Linked DNA regions of Homo sapiens. Changing the gene in region 4 together with the main gene of any one other region gives a genetic interaction. Each region holds a gene or a part of one and is shown on either strand. Other genes may lie near its edges.

The links. Genes that interact genetically often act in the same process or in processes that back each other up.
Region 1: changes in AURKA (region 4) and ATXN10 together harm fitness more than expected from each alone (negative genetic interaction), as found in Homo sapiens cells (one large-scale study listed by BioGRID).
Region 2: changes in AURKA (region 4) and ABCB7 together harm fitness less than expected from each alone (positive genetic interaction), as found in Homo sapiens cells (one large-scale study listed by BioGRID).
Region 3: changes in AURKA (region 4) and TCOF1 together harm fitness more than expected from each alone (negative genetic interaction), as found in Homo sapiens cells (one large-scale study listed by BioGRID).

What each region holds. Positions count from the first base shown.
Region 1 is NC_000022.11:45,842,045-45,846,405, forward strand, and holds the end of ATXN10 (ataxin-10), read left to right. Parts: intron 1-946; coding exon 947-1,134; intron 1,135-1,624; coding exon 1,625-1,627; 3' UTR 1,628-3,263; downstream 3,264-4,361. UniProt on the Homo sapiens protein: May play a role in the regulation of cytokinesis. May play a role in signaling by stimulating protein glycosylation. Induces neuritogenesis by activating the Ras-MAP kinase pathway and is necessary for the survival of cerebellar neurons.
Region 2 is NC_000023.11:75,061,686-75,066,572, forward strand, and holds part of ABCB7 (iron-sulfur clusters transporter ABCB7, mitochondrial), read right to left. Parts: intron 3,557-4,887; coding exon 3,385-3,556; intron 747-3,384; coding exon 643-746; intron 1-642. UniProt on the Homo sapiens protein: Exports glutathione-coordinated iron-sulfur clusters such as [2Fe-2S]-(GS)4 cluster from the mitochondria to the cytosol in an ATP-dependent manner allowing the assembly of the cytosolic iron-sulfur (Fe/S) cluster-containing proteins and participates in iron homeostasis.
Region 3 is NC_000005.10:150,373,908-150,378,794, reverse strand, and holds part of TCOF1 (treacle protein), read right to left. Parts: intron 4,622-4,887; coding exon 4,409-4,621; intron 4,179-4,408; coding exon 3,984-4,178; intron 3,842-3,983; coding exon 3,632-3,841; intron 3,457-3,631; coding exon 3,241-3,456; intron 3,075-3,240; coding exon 2,886-3,074; intron 2,714-2,885; coding exon 2,465-2,713; intron 2,373-2,464; coding exon 2,175-2,372; intron 1-2,174.
Region 4 is NC_000020.11:56,368,890-56,373,789, reverse strand, and holds the end of AURKA (aurora kinase A), read left to right. Parts: intron 1-233; coding exon 234-382; intron 383-3,130; coding exon 3,131-3,305; intron 3,306-3,449; coding exon 3,450-3,632; 3' UTR 3,633-4,400; downstream 4,401-4,900. UniProt on the Homo sapiens protein: Mitotic serine/threonine kinase that contributes to the regulation of cell cycle progression.

The DNA of each region.
Region 1 (4,361 bases), on a different chromosome or scaffold from region 4:
ATAGGTATTTGTTCTACCCTAGGTTCTTTGTTGTTCTCCCTGGATCAGGGTGCCAGGCCCAGTAGGGACACAGCCTCTCTTGGCAGTCTCTTACATATGTCCCTGGATCCAACCACTGAAGACTGGTCCCTGCAGTAGTTTTTGTACAGTCCTTTATAGAACTACATATAATAGCTTAATGTTTGCATGAGGTTTACATGGCTCTTGGTGATTAAATCAAATGCCCTACTCAGTGATGTGGCGATGCTATCCCAGTCTTCGTAGGTTGTCTCTGGTCTCCTGCCAAGCGGAACGTGCCAGGTGAACACTTGGGCACAGTGAGCCCCGATGCTTTCAGGAGCCTGAGTATTCAAACTAAACACAGCAAATCCTTCAAAGCCCTTCCAGCTTCATCTTTAGAATACTGAATGCGGGAAATTCCACAGTGACTCCTAGGAAACAATTCTTATTTCTAACTGGGCTCCCATTAAAACAAGATGATTTTCCTGATTCTAACCTGACGTCTTTGTGACTGATTCTTTAGTGCTCTTCTTATTCTTTCCCTAGTGAGTCAGTAACATAATTATTCAACAAAGGAATGTGTGTGTGTGCACGCACACACGTTTGCCTGTGTGTGTGTTCTTGGGTTCATAAACTTCAGTTTGAGCTACTCTAAGTCTTTGCTTCCTTGTTCATTCATTCAACAAATACTGAGTAAATCTCTCTGGGTGCCCGTGGCTGGACATCACACACACATGCTGGATGTACATGTGCATATGCCTGCGTTGCCTCTTTTTAATGTGTTTGCACTTGAGATGCATATTCAGAGAATGCATCCTCAAGAAAACTTGTGGATTGATACTGGATGTTCCGTGTTTCTGTGCTCCTCTACTCCTTTTCTGATAATTCTTATGTGAAGTTATCAAACAGGAAAGTACGTTGTCACATTCCTTCACTCTGGCTCCAGTTCTGACCCAGTGGGTGATATATGCCATCCGAAACCTTACCGAAGACAACAGCCAAAACCAAGATTTGATTGCAAAGATGGAGGAACAGGGGCTGGCAGATGCATCCCTACTTAAAAAAGTGGGTTTTGAAGTTGAAAAGAAAGGCGAAAAGCTGATCCTGAAATCTACTAGAGACACCCCTAAGCCAGTAAGTACCCTCGAGGGAACTGTCCTTCCCTTTGGTTTGTAGAAAGCTGTTTCCACTTCCCCATTGCTTCAAGCACGAGGCTCTTTGTAAGAATATGGATGGGAGAATTGTGCCCTCTATAGTGGTTTACCGAGGAAAGCCCTAAAGATAGCTGCAAACGGTTTTTTTGTTCCGGCTTTATGCTGCCATTTTCTTAAAAGAGGGACAATTTCAAACTCATTCTGGGTGAGAAATACAAAAGGCATATCAAAAGTTATACATGGTCTAAAAGTAAGTTACTCATAGGAATTAGATTTTCTTTAAAAGATAGTTAATGTTCACTATAGTTTAAAAAACAGAACTCCTTGAATAATATTGCATGAATTGTTTTAGGTTTCTCTAAGTTATTTGTCACCACTGACCAAAGTTCTGGGTTTTTTCCCCTTTTGTCTGATGAATCTTGTGAACAGATTTGCTACATCTGCAATTTTGTTTCTTTCTTCTTCTTTAGTGAATGAACTACATCCAAATACCTGAATTTTTGGAATCTGTTTCATGGATTTTTCATCTTCTACCGTATGTGAAATTGCAAGTGTTTGAAGATTTATAAGTACAAATTTGGGAACATACAAATCTTTTAGGTAGTAGAGTTTAACGTGTATAAGCTAAAAGTGAAAGTAACTGAGTGTTCTCTTGTTTCTTTGCATTAATGTAACTGTGTGGTTTGCCTTTGTCCCCCTGGATAGAACGTGCATTTAAAGAATATATTGTACTTACTGTGACAGCAGATAATAAACCAGTCTCTTGGAGGGCACAACCCTTATTTGACAAAACTTGGATGTTGGCTTGACTGTGTTTGTCCCTTCAGATGGCAAGTCAGCATCATTCTTTATATTCCTCTTCTCATTGGGTTTTCTGAACTCTGGCAGGCGGTTGAAGTAGTTTCTCACTGTGATTAATTCTAGCAATCTCTTTTCACCCCTCTGCCTTTCCAAAACATTGACAAGACTCATTTCCAGTTAATTAATTCGAGAACCCTCCCTCTTCATTTTGGGTACTGGGCTGTCTTGTCACTGAGCCCTATCCCTTTGGAATGTGGCAGGGAGTGAGGTTGGTGAGAGAACATGTGGGCACTTAACTCTTCATGTTCCAGTTCATCCCAGAAGTAGACATCCCAGGACCCATTCTGTGTCAAGGTGAATGCCTGTGTCCTCCCCAGCTTCATGCCTCTGTCATGGGGGAAGGAATAGCTTATGTTCTGCTCTGGTGCAGTGCCGTAGATTAAAGGTACATTTCTATCTTCTTTGATTTAAAAAGCACCAGTCTCATAAAGGTGCCACTCAGTTTTAGCCATGTCTTCACTGAAATTGCAAAAGTACTTTTAGGGAGCAGGAGTTTATTTGACATCTAGTTATCTGTCTGTCTGTTCATCTATCTATCTGTCTGCTGTATGAGAGGTAGGACTGGATTAAATGACCACTGAACTCACTGAATCCAGATCATTCATATCATCAACAAAAGCTCTAGGGGGAGGTCACGTTGTGAATGCTTAAAACATATTATTTTCTTCAACAACCATATCGCTAAACTAATATATCCAGAGATTTTGCACAATTCGTGTTGAACCTTCCAAAACAAAAATAAAGACCTGTCCAAAAGTTTTGACAAAAATACTGATTGCTCCCAAATAAAGTGCTTCTAAGCTTTGTGTAGACATAGTTTAACTGATTTGTAAAAATAGCTTAAGCATGTTGAGAATGAAGTAAAAGTTTTCCCATGTGCTGTCTAATGTACTCTGTGTAACTCTGAAGACACATCAGCTTCTAGGATTGCAGCAATCTATGAATAACATTTTTTCTCTCATTTATGACTTTCCATCAGTAAAGAAGCCATTGCAGAATTTAAAATTACACAAAGGAGTCATTCTCTCCTGGGACATAAAGAGTTAAAGCTCTGTCCTCTAAATAGAAGCCTGGCCAAAGGGAGAAAACAGTGGGAGTCCCTTTTCCCTTTTAACAAGTTTGCAATAGACACTTCTTTTTTTCCTGTCTCAATGGATGTGTGCACACCAGTGGAATCGCACAAACTTGTCGGTATGAGCTATATAATAACAAACACAAATAAATAAAAGGGAGCCTTGTGAGAATACAGAATGGGGTAATGGTTATGTGTTTTCTAAGTAGGAAGTGTGGGGCTTGCATAGTGAAAACATGCTGATGACTGCATTGTGGCTGCCTTTGATTCCCTCGGATGGATTAATTCTTGAGCACAACAGCTTCCCTGTCCTCTACCGTGGAGGACTCGGAGCTCCTGAGAACCTTGTTTTACATGCTATAGAGGATTAATCATCACCTCAATCAGTCATTTAGAAGGAAGAAAAAAGCAGGCCAGCCTTACAAAATTTGTAAAGAGACAGAATGGTCACAGCAAGTTTTGTGACCATATTATTGCTTTCAAGAGCGAGCTGACAAAGCTTTTAGCTGGCTTCACTTTAAAAGATAGAGGGGAAGGCTTCTCAGCTTGATACTGAGTCCAAGTATTTGCAGAGTGATTATTTTTTAATACCTTAACAATGGATGTGAAGATTTCAAAAATACTTATTTTTGCAATCTTAAAACAGTCGGCTCTCTGTATCCACAGATTGAACCAACTGGGGATTGAAAATACTCAGGAAAAATAAAATAGTAGTACAACAACAAAAAATAATACAAATTTTAAAATACAAGGTAACAACTATTTCCATAGCATTTACATTTTATTAGGTGTTACAAGTAATCTGGAGATGATTTAAAGTATGTGGGAGAATGCGGGTAGTTTATATGCAAATACTGTGAAGGCTCATATCAGAGACTTGAGCATCCATAGATTTTGGCATCCAAGCGGGGGTTCCTGAAACCAATACTCCACAGATTTCAAGGGCCAACTTACTAAACTGTTAGGATTTGTTAATATTTGTTCATTGTCCTCCTGCCCCAGCCGTGTAAGACATGCCTGCTTCCTCTTCTGCCATGATCCTAAGTTTCCTGAGGCCTCCCGAGCCATCCTTCCTGTATAGCCTGCAGAGCCATGAGCCAATTAAACCTCTTTTCTTTATAAATTATCTAGTCTCAAGGAGTTCTGTGTAGCAATATGAGAACGCACTAATACAACGTCCTGATTTTGTGGTTCTGTTCTTGTTTTTGTTTTTAGGAGCTAACATTGAGATGCATTTTTTTGTTGTTGTTCAGTAACTTCACAATCTAAGCATA
Region 2 (4,887 bases), on a different chromosome or scaffold from region 4:
TAGATTAAGGGGATATGATAATGAAATTACCATTGTTGTTGAGACTTTTGTATGTAATGTAAAGATGTTGCTATAAAATCTAATGCAGCTGTGGGGCAATGTCATTGACATCAGTGTCACATCTTGGTGTTTCATAACACTTCCAGTGAAATGAATACAAATTGATACCAGCACTGCAGGTTGTGTGTGCCTGACTTGCATCTCATGAGTCGCTCCATGATAAGTGAAAGGCTTTCTGGTATGTACCATGTCACAGGTTTCACAATCACTTCCATGACTATTTTAATGAGTGTTAAGTGGCAATAGGAGAGAGACTAAAACTTTCTTCCTTTGTCAGCATATCAGGTGATTCCTACAGCTTTGTAAGATGCAAGGGCAATACAACAACAGCATAAGGTATCACATAGTTCCAAAAGGAGACACATTTGCAAATGGACTTAACACTGTGGTATCTCTAGTTCAATACAACCTGGTATTCTTACCATCAACACTTGCCATATGGAAAAAGGGGGATAGGCATTTTGCTCTATAGCACTTACTATTGAAGTTTATTCAAAATACAAAGTAATGCAGCCATTTTACTGAAACTTCCAAGTAGAAAAGTTAAACATTGAAGAGCTTTATATTTTAATCATAACTTACCTCTTCAGTAATCGAATCTAACGATGAAGTAGCTTCATCATAGAGTATGACTGGGGGGTCCTTCAAAATGGCTCTTGCAATTGCTACTCTTTGCTTTTCTCCTCCTGGTAAAGGAAAATTTTACTTTAAGGAAGCATAGTGCATGCATATTTTATGTTTTTAGTGTTTCCATTGATTACAACCACCAAGTAATACACTGAACATTTCCTTATTCTCCTGATCACAGTTCATTTTACTGAGTTGTAGAGTTGAAGTTCATATACAATATCTTTTGACAAATTATATTCCCTGAAACATGAATGCACTACTGAATTCTGACTTCATAGCAGGTGGGAAGAATGAGAATGAGGCAGTAAGGTAACAACTTTGATTCTACTATTATTCTTCTACCAGAAGCATGCTCATTATATGTTACTTTATATTACAGATAATTCTCAATGAACTGCAATCTCAGAAAAATTTCAATGACAGAATTGACAATGCCAAAAAAATCAATATCTGAAACCTGAAACTTGAAGACATTAAACTATGAATAACTGAATTCGTCTCTTAAGATAAAAAAGTAGCATTCAGCCAGTATTCTCAAGGATTGTTTTTTGATAGAAAGCTATTATTTTCACAGCATTCTTCAAAGTTAAAGGCATACACTAGATATCTTTTCCTTTATTCAGGTATTTATTATAGGTCTCTAGCATATCAAATTTTTAAAATAGAAAGGATATAGGCCCAGAAAAGTTAAGTGATTTGCTCAAGGTCACCGAGCAAGAATCTGGACTAGACCCATTTCAGTCCAATGCTCTTCTTATCACAATGTGTAAGCCCACATTTATTCCTAAATACAAGAATAAATATTTAGAAAGTATTTCTTAAATAAACAGTGAAAATATGTAGTGAAATGTATAGAAACCTTTATTACTGAGACTACTGTAGGTCTAAGGTCATCAATCTTATATAGAACTATAGTTGGAAGTACAGAAGATGGTACTCTGCTGACTATGTCCCTTTTGGCTTCTTTTCTTGTCTATTATACATTACCAATATCTGAAAAACATATTTTTCAGCTTATTAGGAAATAAGCTCTATCCATTACCTGGTACATTAAATATTTTTATTTTTACTTATTCTACAATTATTATCTTTGGCCTATAAAGGGGTTCCTTATTTTTAATATTAGTAAGTTTATATTTATGCTAGCCATACGCTTCCCCACCTCACAGGATCAAAATTCTCCTAACAAGGCAGGTACCATAAGTACTATCTTCCCGCCTACCTATCAGCCCAGTAGCAGAAAGTTCCTCAAAGAAGTAGATATTCAGAGGAAGGACTAGTTTTGAAGTGCCTCTCAAATTTCAAGTGGAAACCAACTCAGTTGTAATTCTATTCAACGGTATTTTGGAACTTGGAGAAGAAATGTCTGTTTATTCTCTAACATAATTATTAGCATAGATGATAAATAATAAATTGCTCATTTTGAGAGGTTTGGTTATAAGGAAATGAGAAATAGGTAAGAATAAAATTTCTTTAGCTATTCCTATCCCTCAAAGGCATGCAGAAAGGAAAAATAAGATTAGAAAATGGAACACAGCATAGCTGGCTGAGGCAAAGTCATGCATTAAGAGGGCTAGTTCATATTACGTGATAAATTAGGGATCGCCAGAATTAGCCAAACGGACACATAATTTGGGGGTGGGCCAGATAACTGGAAATTACTCCTATTAAAAGCAGTAATAAAGTGTAAATGTGGACTGGAATGATACTGGCATCTTATACTACCAGGTAATGACCCAATCAACTTAACTTGGAAATAATCTTTGCTTAAAATTTTCTAAACCTAGCCCAAAACTTTCTAACAGATTGCCAATTCCTGAATAACAGGCCTGTTTATGCTTCATTTTTTTAACTTTCAAATCATTTAGCATAGTAGCTTGCACATAGTGTGTATCTAATAAATGAAGCCAGTTTATAATGAAGAGGAATGTGGATTCGTTAAAATTCATATAGAGTATTTCTCATTCTATTTTTGCCTTACCTCTATCTATAATCGATACATTTCCTGCCCAAACTAAACTAGACATTGCTATACTTTTGAATTCAAATAATTTGGGGGTAAAGAAACATTTTTCTGTGTCCTCCAAAAAAAAAATCAGTCATTTTAGGGTAATTCATTCTTAAACCTAGCAATCTCATAATTAAACATTTAACAAGAAATGTATAAGCCTCAAAATATCCTTGGCCACAGAACAAAGGACATGAAAATGAATCTGGCTGTAAGGAAAGTATAGCAGTTAACAGGATCAAATATAAAGAGGTCTCAAGTACTGAAAACATCTTCTAATGATCTAGGAAGTTATGATGAGAGATATACACTATTCGTTATCAAATTACTTCTCCCTAACCTTACTACTTTCCCAGGTAAAGAACGATCTTGTTTTTCCTTTATCATGAAGATTGTAGATAACAAGTTAGTAATGATCTGAGCATATTTTGATAACTTACTTAATATCAAACACCTACAGTGTTTGCAGCTGCAAGTGAAAAAAAAAAGACTTGCATGACTTGAGAATAGTTACTAATATGTTGAATTGGTTATAGTGAGGGCTAGGAGATTAGTAACCCAATCAAATGTGACTCAACGAGCACTACATTTGAAGTCTCTCATTACATTTTCTAAAAAATGGCTCTGACAAATTAGAGTTTGAAAGAAGTATACAAGAAGGGGGCAGGTCTAAAATCTCTGATCACCTGAAAGCTTGAGTCCTCGTTCCCCTACTTGGGTGTCATATCCATGTGGCATTCGAAGAATTGCATCATGAAGTCCAGCTAATTTTGCCACTGCATACACTTCCTCAGGTGAAGCACTGATGTTTCCATATAAGAGGTTGTAATAAATAGTATTATGGAAGAGGACAGCATCCTGAAGCAGATATACTGAATGAATATATATCTATATCTATATATCTCTCTCTATTTATGTTCATTATTAAAAATTCAAATAGTAAAGAGACAAAGGCATAAAGGGTAAAACATGACAGTCCCTTTCATCATCCCTCATCTGCAAAATCCCATTCCCTTCCCAGGGGTAGTCATCATAAACAATTTAGTGTGCATCATTCCAGACTTCTTCCTGTGAATTTATATACCTAAACATATGTTTCTTTCCCCTAACACAAGTATGGTCATTCTACACATATTATTTTGCAATTGCTTTTTTCAGTTAACATATCATAGAGATTGTCCATGTCAATAACAGAAAACTAACTCATTCTTTTTAACAGTTGTATATTCCATACTATGGAAATGTCATAATTTATTTATACATTCTCCTACTGATGGACATTAATGTGATTTCCAAGTTTATGCTACTACAATGTTGGAATAAAACATTATGTATATGACTTTGTACAACTGTGTGTTTCTGTAAGAATTCCTAGAAGTAGACTGATGAGTTTAAAGGTAAGCATACTTTTATCCTTTGATATTATTGCCCAAATGTCTTCTAAATATGGCCCTACCAGCAACCAATAATGTATAAGTACACGCTAACCAATAGCATATGAGGGTGCCAGTTCCTCATATACTCAGAAACCCTGGATATTAATAATTTTTAGGTGTTGCTATTCTTAGGGGAAAAATGTGTTTTTTGTTTAAATTAGCATTTCCCTAATTACTAACGAGGTTTGAATATGTTTTCCTATGTTTCTAAGAAGCTTTGACATTGATATTAAAACAGAAAACAAATAATTTATGCAATATATATATTTTTGGAGAAAGTTCACTTCAAGCATTCATTTGATATTTCAACTTATTCTCACATGGCACACTAAAGCTAATTTACTTCAAGTGAGCATCCATCTCCCATTTTTCTTTCAATCTCTAAACGGTTGGAAGGCTATGGTTAGGTGAAATAAAATGACTCCATTTGTTCACATTAACCAGGATACCCATCTTCTTTAACATCATAATCAGACCAAAAATTTCATATATTGCTTTAAATAGTATTTAAATCATTTATATACCTATTAATAAAATTTCTCATATTGAGACAATACTTAAACTCAATAAGCTCATTGTATAAACAGAAACTGCTTATTTTAAAATAATTTATATTTAGGAAAAAGCTAAATGTGCTAGATGGAAATTTTGAAAATATAAAAACTAATATAAAATAAATACTGATTTTTTTGGTGTAATTTCTGCTAAATGGGTAGATTTTAGCTGCTCTAGTCACAAAAACATGGGTAACTG
Region 3 (4,887 bases), on a different chromosome or scaffold from region 4:
TGCAATAGGCGTGTGAACCTGAGCTCATCACTTGATCTCACTGGGCCTCAGTTCAGTCCTCTATCAAATGGAGATAATAATAAGGCCCACCTACGGGTTATGATGAAGACTAAATAGGAGATTCAGAGTTTAACATGATGTCTGGAACATAATAAACACTCAAACTCATTGTGCGTGCCTTCCTTAGCATTAGCTAAGCACAAGACTACCTAAAACAGATGTTTTCCAGGCTCCCTTTCAGCTAGGTGGCAATGTCATTAAATTCTGGCTCATAGGATGTAAGTTGAGTGCCATAAAAGGTCAGAAACATGTCTCTTCCTCCTCCAGGCTAGATGGAATGCTGAGGTCAGAGCTGGAGCTCAAGCAGCCACGGCAGAACAAGATACTTGTTGTTTAAGGTTTTCTTCAGCTTAATCTAGCCTTAACCGATATCCAGAGAACCCCCAAAAGGCCTGTCAGGGATTCCAACAAATAGAAGGAGAACAAAAAAAAAGGGAAATTCCCAGAGTGAGATCCTTAACAGGAGTGACAGCAAGCCTAATGTGAAACAGAATGAGGACTCTGGCAGCATCTCAAGGCCCCTGCCTCACTCAGGGATGGCATCTGGTCAGTGTCAGAAAACAACCCCATCCCCCAGCATTCCTCAAACACATGAGGTCAAATGAGGTGAAGAATCAGGACTTCAAGAAGATTCCCTACAGTGTGGACCAAGTATGACTCAGGCCGAGGTGCTCATCAGTAGAGCACGTAAATCCTCCAGAGGGGAGCCATGTTTTCCACAAGAAACAAGACACAAGACTGACTTGACCTAACAAGTCTCAATACACAAAAAAGGATTTAAATCATACAAAATATGTTCTCCAACCACAATGTGACTAAATTAGAAATCAACAAAAAGAAACCTGGGTAATCCCAGATATTTGGAAATTAAACGGCTTACTTCAAAATAGCCCATGGTTCAAAAAATAAAAATAAAACACCCACCTCATGGTACAGGTGGGAGGCTCAGAAGGGAAGACAAATATTTAAGTGAGCTGCATAATGAAACTCTGTAAGGCATTGGGTCTGGAATGTGCCTGCAGCTTGGGAAAGAGTAGAGGCGGCTCTGGAAGGGGCCCCTGCAGAGCTTAAAAACCTCAATGGAGGAATTCTAGAGCCCTGAGGTCCCACAAGTCAACGAGAGGAGGACAAAAAAAAATCAGTAGAAATGTGTGCTCTGGTACAGAGAAAAAAGAAATGACTAATTTCTGAGTGGTTACAGAAAAAAACAGAGCGACAATTAAAAATAATAAACAGTGGGTGGGTGAGTGCAGGGAGTGAGCCATCTTCTCTCAGCTCTTCCAGGCTTGGAGACCTCACTCCTGATCTGTTCCACATTAGCCTGGCCCATCGTCAGGGTGACAGAGACAACTTGCTGTGTGCAGCTCCCTTGCTGGGTGTAGCAGGTGAGATCTCACCTAAATTCTCACCCAAACCTGTGAGGGCTGATTTCCTGTTTATAGGAGAGTAAGGGCTCTGAGGGCTTACAGCACTTGCCAGGCTGTGGAGCTGAAACTTGAACCCAGGCGGTCTGGCTCTAAACAACTGCCAGCCATCCCACCACAATGTGCCGCCTGTGGCAAGGCACCCAAGCCAGGCACTCTCTCATTCCCTGGCCTCGCACAGACTGCTTCCTCTGCCTGGAACACTCTCCCTGCCCATTTCACCTGGCCAACTCTTTCAGCCCATGGCTCAGATGCTGCCACCTCCTGTAAAAGGCCTAGATGCTCTCACCTGTCATGCTGCGCAGCCCAGGCTCACACCCTCTATCTCAACCCCATCGCTCCACACTGCAGGAGCATGTCCATGCTCCACAGAGACAGGACTTCCCTGAGGAACAGCGCCTCAGCAACCCCAGACAAGGGCAGCACCTGGCAGGGTGGGAACTCCAGAGCTTGTGAAAACCACAGGGAATCAATCAGCAGGAGGACCTCAAAAGGCAAACAAGACAGAGACCCTGGAGCTCTGATGGGCAGAGGAGACATGGAGTGAAAGATAGGGAAGGAAGCTGTGTTGAGGCTACCTCTGAGGCTTCTGCACACCTGCAGGCAACACTAGCCCCCAGTCAAGCCCATCCTCAGCCCTGGCTCAGGAACAGGTGTGGGTGGGATGGGCCTGCTCCTTCTAGGCCTCACCTGTGCTGGAGATGCAGCTGCTTCCTCACTGTCTGATTCCTCCTCACTGCTCTCAGAGTCTTCCTGCTTTTCAGCTTTCACCTGGGTGACTGTAGGCCCCGTCTTCCCAGGGAGTACTGGAGCAGTCCCTTGCCCCAAGGACCCCTTGACAGGCACTGAGGCTGCTTTCACCTGGAGGCCTTTCCCCACAGACTTTGCCTGGGATGACAAGGGGAAGAGAGGTGTCTCCAGGAGTCCAAAGGACCACGTAGGGGCGGCCCTGAGGCCCGCCCAGAAAACACAGGCCTCACCTGTCCCACGGTTACTGCAAGACCTGTCTTCTCTTCCTCACTATCTGATTCCTCACTGCTTGAAGAATCCTCTGCTGGTCTCTGGGTGCCCCCAGCCACAGCTGGGGATGAGCCTGCTGGAGAAGTCGCAGTTCCTGCTTTCCGGGGGGCTTGGGTGCCCACTCGCACAGGGGCGACCTTGGCAGATGCAGTGGTATTGGTTTTCTTTGGGCAGGCCTTGGTCTGAGGAATTTTCAGAGCTGGTTTTGCCTGAGGGGACACCAAAGAAAGGCTGGAGAAGGTTCCTGAACTCAGAGTCCCCCATCTGTTCTGCCCCACCAGCCAAAACCCATGCTCTGCCTGAGGGAGCACAGCTCCCCGGGGGTGCTGACTGTGGTGTGGCAGATCAGGCCATGTAGCAGCCTCCTTCCCCAGGCCTCACCTGAGCTGCAGTCATGGCTGCTGGTGCCTCCTCACTGTCCGCACTGTCCGATGACTCCTCGCTGCTCTCCGAGTTGTCCATGGGCTTTTCAGCCTTGACCTGGACGGCTACAGGCCCTGCCTTCTGAGGGGGCCCCTTGGCAGGACTGGAGGTGGGTTTGGCCTGGAGGATGTTCCCCAAGGACTTTTCCTGGAGTGAGATACACAGGATCGGGAGAGGGAGCCCAGGGTAGGTGTGTGCAGACATTAAGAAACTAAGATTGTAGACAGAGTCCCAGTGTGAGGTTGGGAGGCCACAGGCAGCTCCACTCTGAGTGGGGGGGAAAAAGAAAGAGCCTTACAGGAAGGGGCCTCACCTGAGCCGGGGCCACAGCTGTGGGCACCTCTCCATCACTGCTGTCTGATGACTCCTCACTACTGCTCTCTGAGTCCTCCTCCCACTTCCCCACCTGGGCTGAGGGGGTTGCAGGCCCCACCTTCCCGGGTGGCACTGGGCCGGCGCCTTTCCCCAAGGGCCCCATGCCCATGGTAGAGGCAGGTTTCACCTGGGGGCTTTTCCCCAAGGGCTTCACCTGGGAGACACAAAGGACAAGATTAGGGAGGGAGTCCAGAAGGAGAATGTGAGTGAGGGGAGGAGAGCAAACGAAGCCAGCCGCACAGGGCTCTAGGTTCAGAGAGGAAAAGTCAAAACCACAGGAGGTCTTTTGAGGCAGGGCACAGGCCATGCAGGGCGGCTTCCAGCCTCACCTGAGCTGCATTCATGGCTGCCAGTGCCTCTCTGTCACTGTCTGACTCCTCGCTGCTGCTTCTTGAGTCCTCCTCCTGCTTCCCCACCTGGACCTGGGCGGCTGCAGGCCCTGTTTTCCTAGGAGGTGCTGGGGCAGCCCCTTTCCTGGGGGACTCCTTGGCAGGGGCCGAGGCGGCTCTGACCTGGGGGGCCTTCCCTGAAGGCTTCGCCTGGAGTGAGAAACAGGATGAGGGGAGAGCCCAGAGGGTGGACGTGTGGAGACAGGAGCTGGATGTGGCAAAGGTGGCCACACCCATGCAGGTGCTGGGGTTTAGGCATGGGGCTACTCTCCACCCCTCCCCTCTGCCTCACCTGAGCAGGCGCCTCCTCCTCACTGTCCGATTCCTCGCTGCTGCTCTGCGAGTCCTCCTCCCGCTTCCCCGCCTGGGCCTTGGCAACTGCAGGCCCTGTCTTCCCAGGGGGCGCTGGGGCAGCTCCTTTCCTGGGGGACTCCTTGGCAGGGGCTGAGGCAGCTCCGACCTGAGAGGTTTTTCCTGAGGCCTTCGCCTGGAGAAACAAGACAAGGGGAGACAGCCCAGAGGATGGACGTGTGAGGAGACACAGGACACCACGTACAGAAGACCAGATAGGGCAAATGATGCCACACAGTGAGAGGGGAGTAAGGGGCTGGGGTCTGAGGCACGCCCGGGGCTCTGGCCCAGAGTGGGAGAACAAGTCCTGAGAAGGCCTTCTGGGGACGGGCCTGGCTGCATGGAGTCTCCCTCCTCAGGCCTCACCTGAAGCAGGGCCTTGGCAGCTGGCGTCTCCTCCTCACTGTCAGATGACTCCTCGCTGCTGCTCTCTGAGTCCTCCTCTGGCTTCCCTGCCTTGGTCTGGGAGGCTACAGCCCCTGCCTTCCCAGGGGGTGCTGGGGTAGCCCCTTTCCCAGGGGTCCCCTTGGCAGGGGCTGAGGCAGCTCTGACCTGGAGAATTTTTTCAGAGGCCTTTACCTGGTGAAAAAGAAAGGGCAGCTTGCTCTCCTGCTTGTGAAAACTCTCTGGTGATGCCTTTAGGATAAAGTCCAGAGGCCTTAATGAGGCTCCTAAGACCTCCCCTGCTTCCCTCCCCACTCCCCACCTTGACTGATACTTTGGCCACACTGGCCTCCTGGTTTCTCAAAAATCGATCAGCTTCACACACTCTCACTCCTGGAGCCTCCATGCCCCCTGTTCCATTTCACTTAGCCACTGCCTCCTCTGTCTCTGGCTCCCTAAGA
Region 4 (4,900 bases):
TTGTAGAGATGGAGTCTTGCTATGTTTCCCAGGCTGGTCTTGAACCCCTGGGCTCAAGTGATCCTCCCACCTCAGTCCCCCAAAGTGTTGGGATTATAGGTGTGAGCCACTGTGCCTGGCCAAAACCTGCAAACCATGTTAAATCTATGTTGTGTTCCTTTCGGAAGAGATGTCTAATATTAACTTGTGTTATATAAAATCTAAAACATAGGCTTTCAATATTGTTTTAACAGTATATAACAGAATTGGCAAATGCCCTGTCTTACTGTCATTCGAAGAGAGTTATTCATAGAGACATTAAGCCAGAGAACTTACTTCTTGGATCAGCTGGAGAGCTTAAAATTGCAGATTTTGGGTGGTCAGTACATGCTCCATCTTCCAGGTATGTAACTTTAGAGGTGGAAGTTGTTTGGTTTACCAAAGCCCTGGGAGCTAACCGTGAGCTAAATGTAAAATATTTCAGTGTAGATTTTGTGCTGTAAGAGGGGTAGGTGGCTAACCCAGAAGTACTTTGGAGTAATTTAGGCTTAATAATAAACTAGGGTTTGCAAGAAAGTGTTATTCTGTGGAGATTTGGGGCTATTAGCAGTGTTCTAGGCCTAGGGTTGAAGATGCTTAATGTCCTTAGAGGCTAATGAAGGGATGAATGAGTCAACAGATAGGACACGTATATGACAGAGGTGAAGTGCCCACATGTTGAGTGGGAGGAACTCTTCACCTCTGCTGCTTCCTGGATGAGGAGATGGGGAGATGGTTCAGAGGACAGCACTGACAAAGATCTAGAGCTCAGAGTGCAGGCCATATCAGGGAACTTGAAACACTAAATTAGTTTGGTGGTGCTTTGAGGGCAGTGGTGAGAGATTCTCTTCAGTCTGCCTCTGTCAATAGTAGGGATAGTCCTTTCTTATCCCCTGTCACAGCTGAAGCAGAGATGTCAGTCTCAAAACAATTCAAATCTTAGCTTTCCAAGTGAACTACAATATCTTTACTGTTTTAAATTTGAGTTTAAATAAGCTTTGAAACTTCACATGAAGTGGGGCATTTTAAAACATATATCTACCGATGAAGTTTTGTCAACTTTGGAGGAGGACTCAAATTATAGCCAAATGACTTAAAAATCAAGCTAGTTAAAAAAAAAGTATAGCCTAAAATAGAATATGAGGGAGAAAACCTTTGCTTTTGTTACAGAGCACTTCTAATTGTTCCAGCAATGCACTGAATCTGCTATTGCAGTCTTTTTTTTTTTTTTTTTTTTTAAACTGGTTGTCATTAGTGGGAGCTGTTATCTGGTGAGACAAACCAGAATAAAGACTTACAGGCTTCATGGAATCGCAGAGTTAAACTGTATCTTAACCGGTTGAATTGTGATAGAAAAGATGGCTTCTTGCTTTTTGAAAAGATTACTTACATAACCGATAGTCACTTCACTCCAAATCCCAGATGTTAATCATCATCATTTCCTGGTTATTGCCTCAGTTTGAGAACCCCCGATTCAGTCCGTCGGTGCTGATGGAGGGGTTAGATGACCAGAGTGGTAGCTTCTTAATCCTACGTCACAATTCAGTGGTGAGTGACTGTTTGTGTGCTCAGTGGGTGCCAGGCCTGGCTGAACACAGCACCAGGGCTGTGACCACGTAAGCCTCCATGGTGAAGAGCAGCTGATAACAAAGCAACACGAACCCACACAGACTGTTCTGGCTTGCTGTCTGCTGTTCCCAGCTTTTTTCCAACCTTCGTTAAAAAAACCTAAACCGATAAAAATGCGGAATTGGTAGTTGATGGCATACCTGTCTATACAGTGCCTACGTTCAGCAGTTTTTCCCATTTAGTCAGAAGGGCTGCATCTGCTTTTTTAGTGAACACTTGAAAATACGTTGCAAACATCATGATGCTTCAACCTTAAGCACTATAATAGAATGCATTTCCTAAATAAGGATATTCTCCTATATAACTAGAACCATGATCACTCCTAAGAAAATTAACAGCATTGTCAGTATCTAATATTTAGTCCACATTCAGATTTCTCCTATTGTCCATGACATCTTATAGCTGGTTTGTAAAATCAGAACTCAACCAAAGCCCATGCTTTGTATTGGACTGTCTATGTGGTTGGATTGTCTCTGTGGTTGGACTGTCTCTGTGGTTGGACTGTCTCTGTGGTTGGATTGTCTCTGTGGTCTAAAGCCAGACCAGTCTCCCACTTTAAAGAGGACTTTTCTGATTGTGTTGCCACTTAACTTGGACCTTTATTCCCCGTATTTGCTGAAAACTGGAATGTAGGTCTCAGGTCCTGAAGAGATTCAGGTTAAGAAAATTTTTTTTTTTTTTTGAGACAGAGTCTCGCTCTGTCACCCAGGCTGGAGTGCAGTGGTGCGATCTTGGCTCACTACAAGCTCGCCTCCCGGGTTCACGCCATTCTTCTGCCTCAGCCTCCTGAGTAGCTAGGACTACAGGCGCACACCACCACACCCGGCTAATTTTTTGTATTTTTAGTAGATACGGCGTTTCACCATGTTAGCCAGGATGGTCTCGATCTCCTGACCTCGTGATCCGCCTCCCTCGGCCTCCCAAAGTGCTGGCATTACAGGCATGAGCCACTGCACCCAGCCAGGTTAAATATTTTTGGCAAGAGTACTTCATAGGCCACCCTCAAAATTTCAGCATCACTCGTACCAAGTATCTATCACAAGGCAGCATGTGTCTACATCTCCACCCCAGTGCTGTTACAGTGGGACAGTTTCTAGTGTATTGTCATTGCGACCAGGCTTTTAAGATTCTTAGCATATCTGTAATATCCACATGCAGATGTAGAATCCAAATCGTATTTACAGAGAACTTTGCATGGCAGCTTTTATATGGTAGTGATACATTCAGTTTCTTACATTCTAGATTATTCAGGGAGGTTCTGGAGTTGGACAGATTTGGGGTTAAGCCTGATGGCTAGCTGTGTGACCTTACACACCTCGCTTCATCTGTTTCCTATGGGAATTTATAATAGTAGCTACTTCCTAGGGCACAGGATCTGGCCCAGGGGAAGACCTCAGTGTTAGTGGACTCTTTAATGATTGTTAGCAGCTGTTGTGATCATAAAACGAGAAGCACATCAACCTGAGCCTCCCTCCGTTTTCAGGAGGACCACTCTCTGTGGCACCCTGGACTACCTGCCCCCTGAAATGATTGAAGGTCGGATGCATGATGAGAAGGTGGATCTCTGGAGCCTTGGAGTTCTTTGCTATGAATTTTTAGTTGGGAAGCCTCCTTTTGAGGCAAACACATACCAAGAGACCTACAAAAGAATATCACGGGTAAGACGCAACTGAAAAGGACCCAGCACATCTGCTGGAATTCTTTCCTTATCAGCCTGAACTGCAGGCCAAGATCCGAACATCTATACTATTTGATCTCTCTAACCTGTGTTTTGTGATATTTTATCATTTGTTGTACTCCAGGTTGAATTCACATTCCCTGACTTTGTAACAGAGGGAGCCAGGGACCTCATTTCAAGACTGTTGAAGCATAATCCCAGCCAGAGGCCAATGCTCAGAGAAGTACTTGAACACCCCTGGATCACAGCAAATTCATCAAAACCATCAAATTGCCAAAACAAAGAATCAGCTAGCAAACAGTCTTAGGAATCGTGCAGGGGGAGAAATCCTTGAGCCAGGGCTGCCATATAACCTGACAGGAACATGCTACTGAAGTTTATTTTACCATTGACTGCTGCCCTCAATCTAGAACGCTACACAAGAAATATTTGTTTTACTCAGCAGGTGTGCCTTAACCTCCCTATTCAGAAAGCTCCACATCAATAAACATGACACTCTGAAGTGAAAGTAGCCACGAGAATTGTGCTACTTATACTGGTTCATAATCTGGAGGCAAGGTTCGACTGCAGCCGCCCCGTCAGCCTGTGCTAGGCATGGTGTCTTCACAGGAGGCAAATCCAGAGCCTGGCTGTGGGGAAAGTGACCACTCTGCCCTGACCCCGATCAGTTAAGGAGCTGTGCAATAACCTTCCTAGTACCTGAGTGAGTGTGTAACTTATTGGGTTGGCGAAGCCTGGTAAAGCTGTTGGAATGAGTATGTGATTCTTTTTAAGTATGAAAATAAAGATATATGTACAGACTTGTATTTTTTCTCTGGTGGCATTCCTTTAGGAATGCTGTGTGTCTGTCCGGCACCCCGGTAGGCCTGATTGGGTTTCTAGTCCTCCTTAACCACTTATCTCCCATATGAGAGTGTGAAAAATAGGAACACGTGCTCTACCTCCATTTAGGGATTTGCTTGGGATACAGAAGAGGCCATGTGTCTCAGAGCTGTTAAGGGCTTATTTTTTTAAAACATTGGAGTCATAGCATGTGTGTAAACTTTAAATATGCAAATAAATAAGTATCTATGTCTGTGTGGAGTGCTGTGTAATTCTTTCCACCATCTGTTCATTGTTGGCCTGGAAATGAGCAGGGGCTGAGAGGAGCAGGTCTCGCCCTCATCTAGTCCTGCCTCTTCTGGTCTCTCCTGTTGGGTGTACTCCTAATACTTCATTATATATATTGTTTATATATTTGTCATATCTTTGTCATCTGTCCATCGACTAAAGATACGGTGAAAGTGACTGTGATGAAGGAAAAGTAGAAGTGTTGAACTTAGAGCTAGTAGAGAAATCTGCTTGCATGGCCAATGCTCAGTGCAAGAAACTGGACAGCAGGTATGTCAGGATATGTCATAACAAAGTGGCCAATATAGAGAAACTTAAAAACATGACTCAGTAAAACTGCAGCTGCCAGCCCCCTTGGGACAAAGGGGCTTCTGGTTCTCATAGTCTTGAGCTGAACTGACTTTGACCTTCCCAAATAGTTCATGTGCCACCCTCCCAAGCTATAGTTATTATCACGTGACTGAC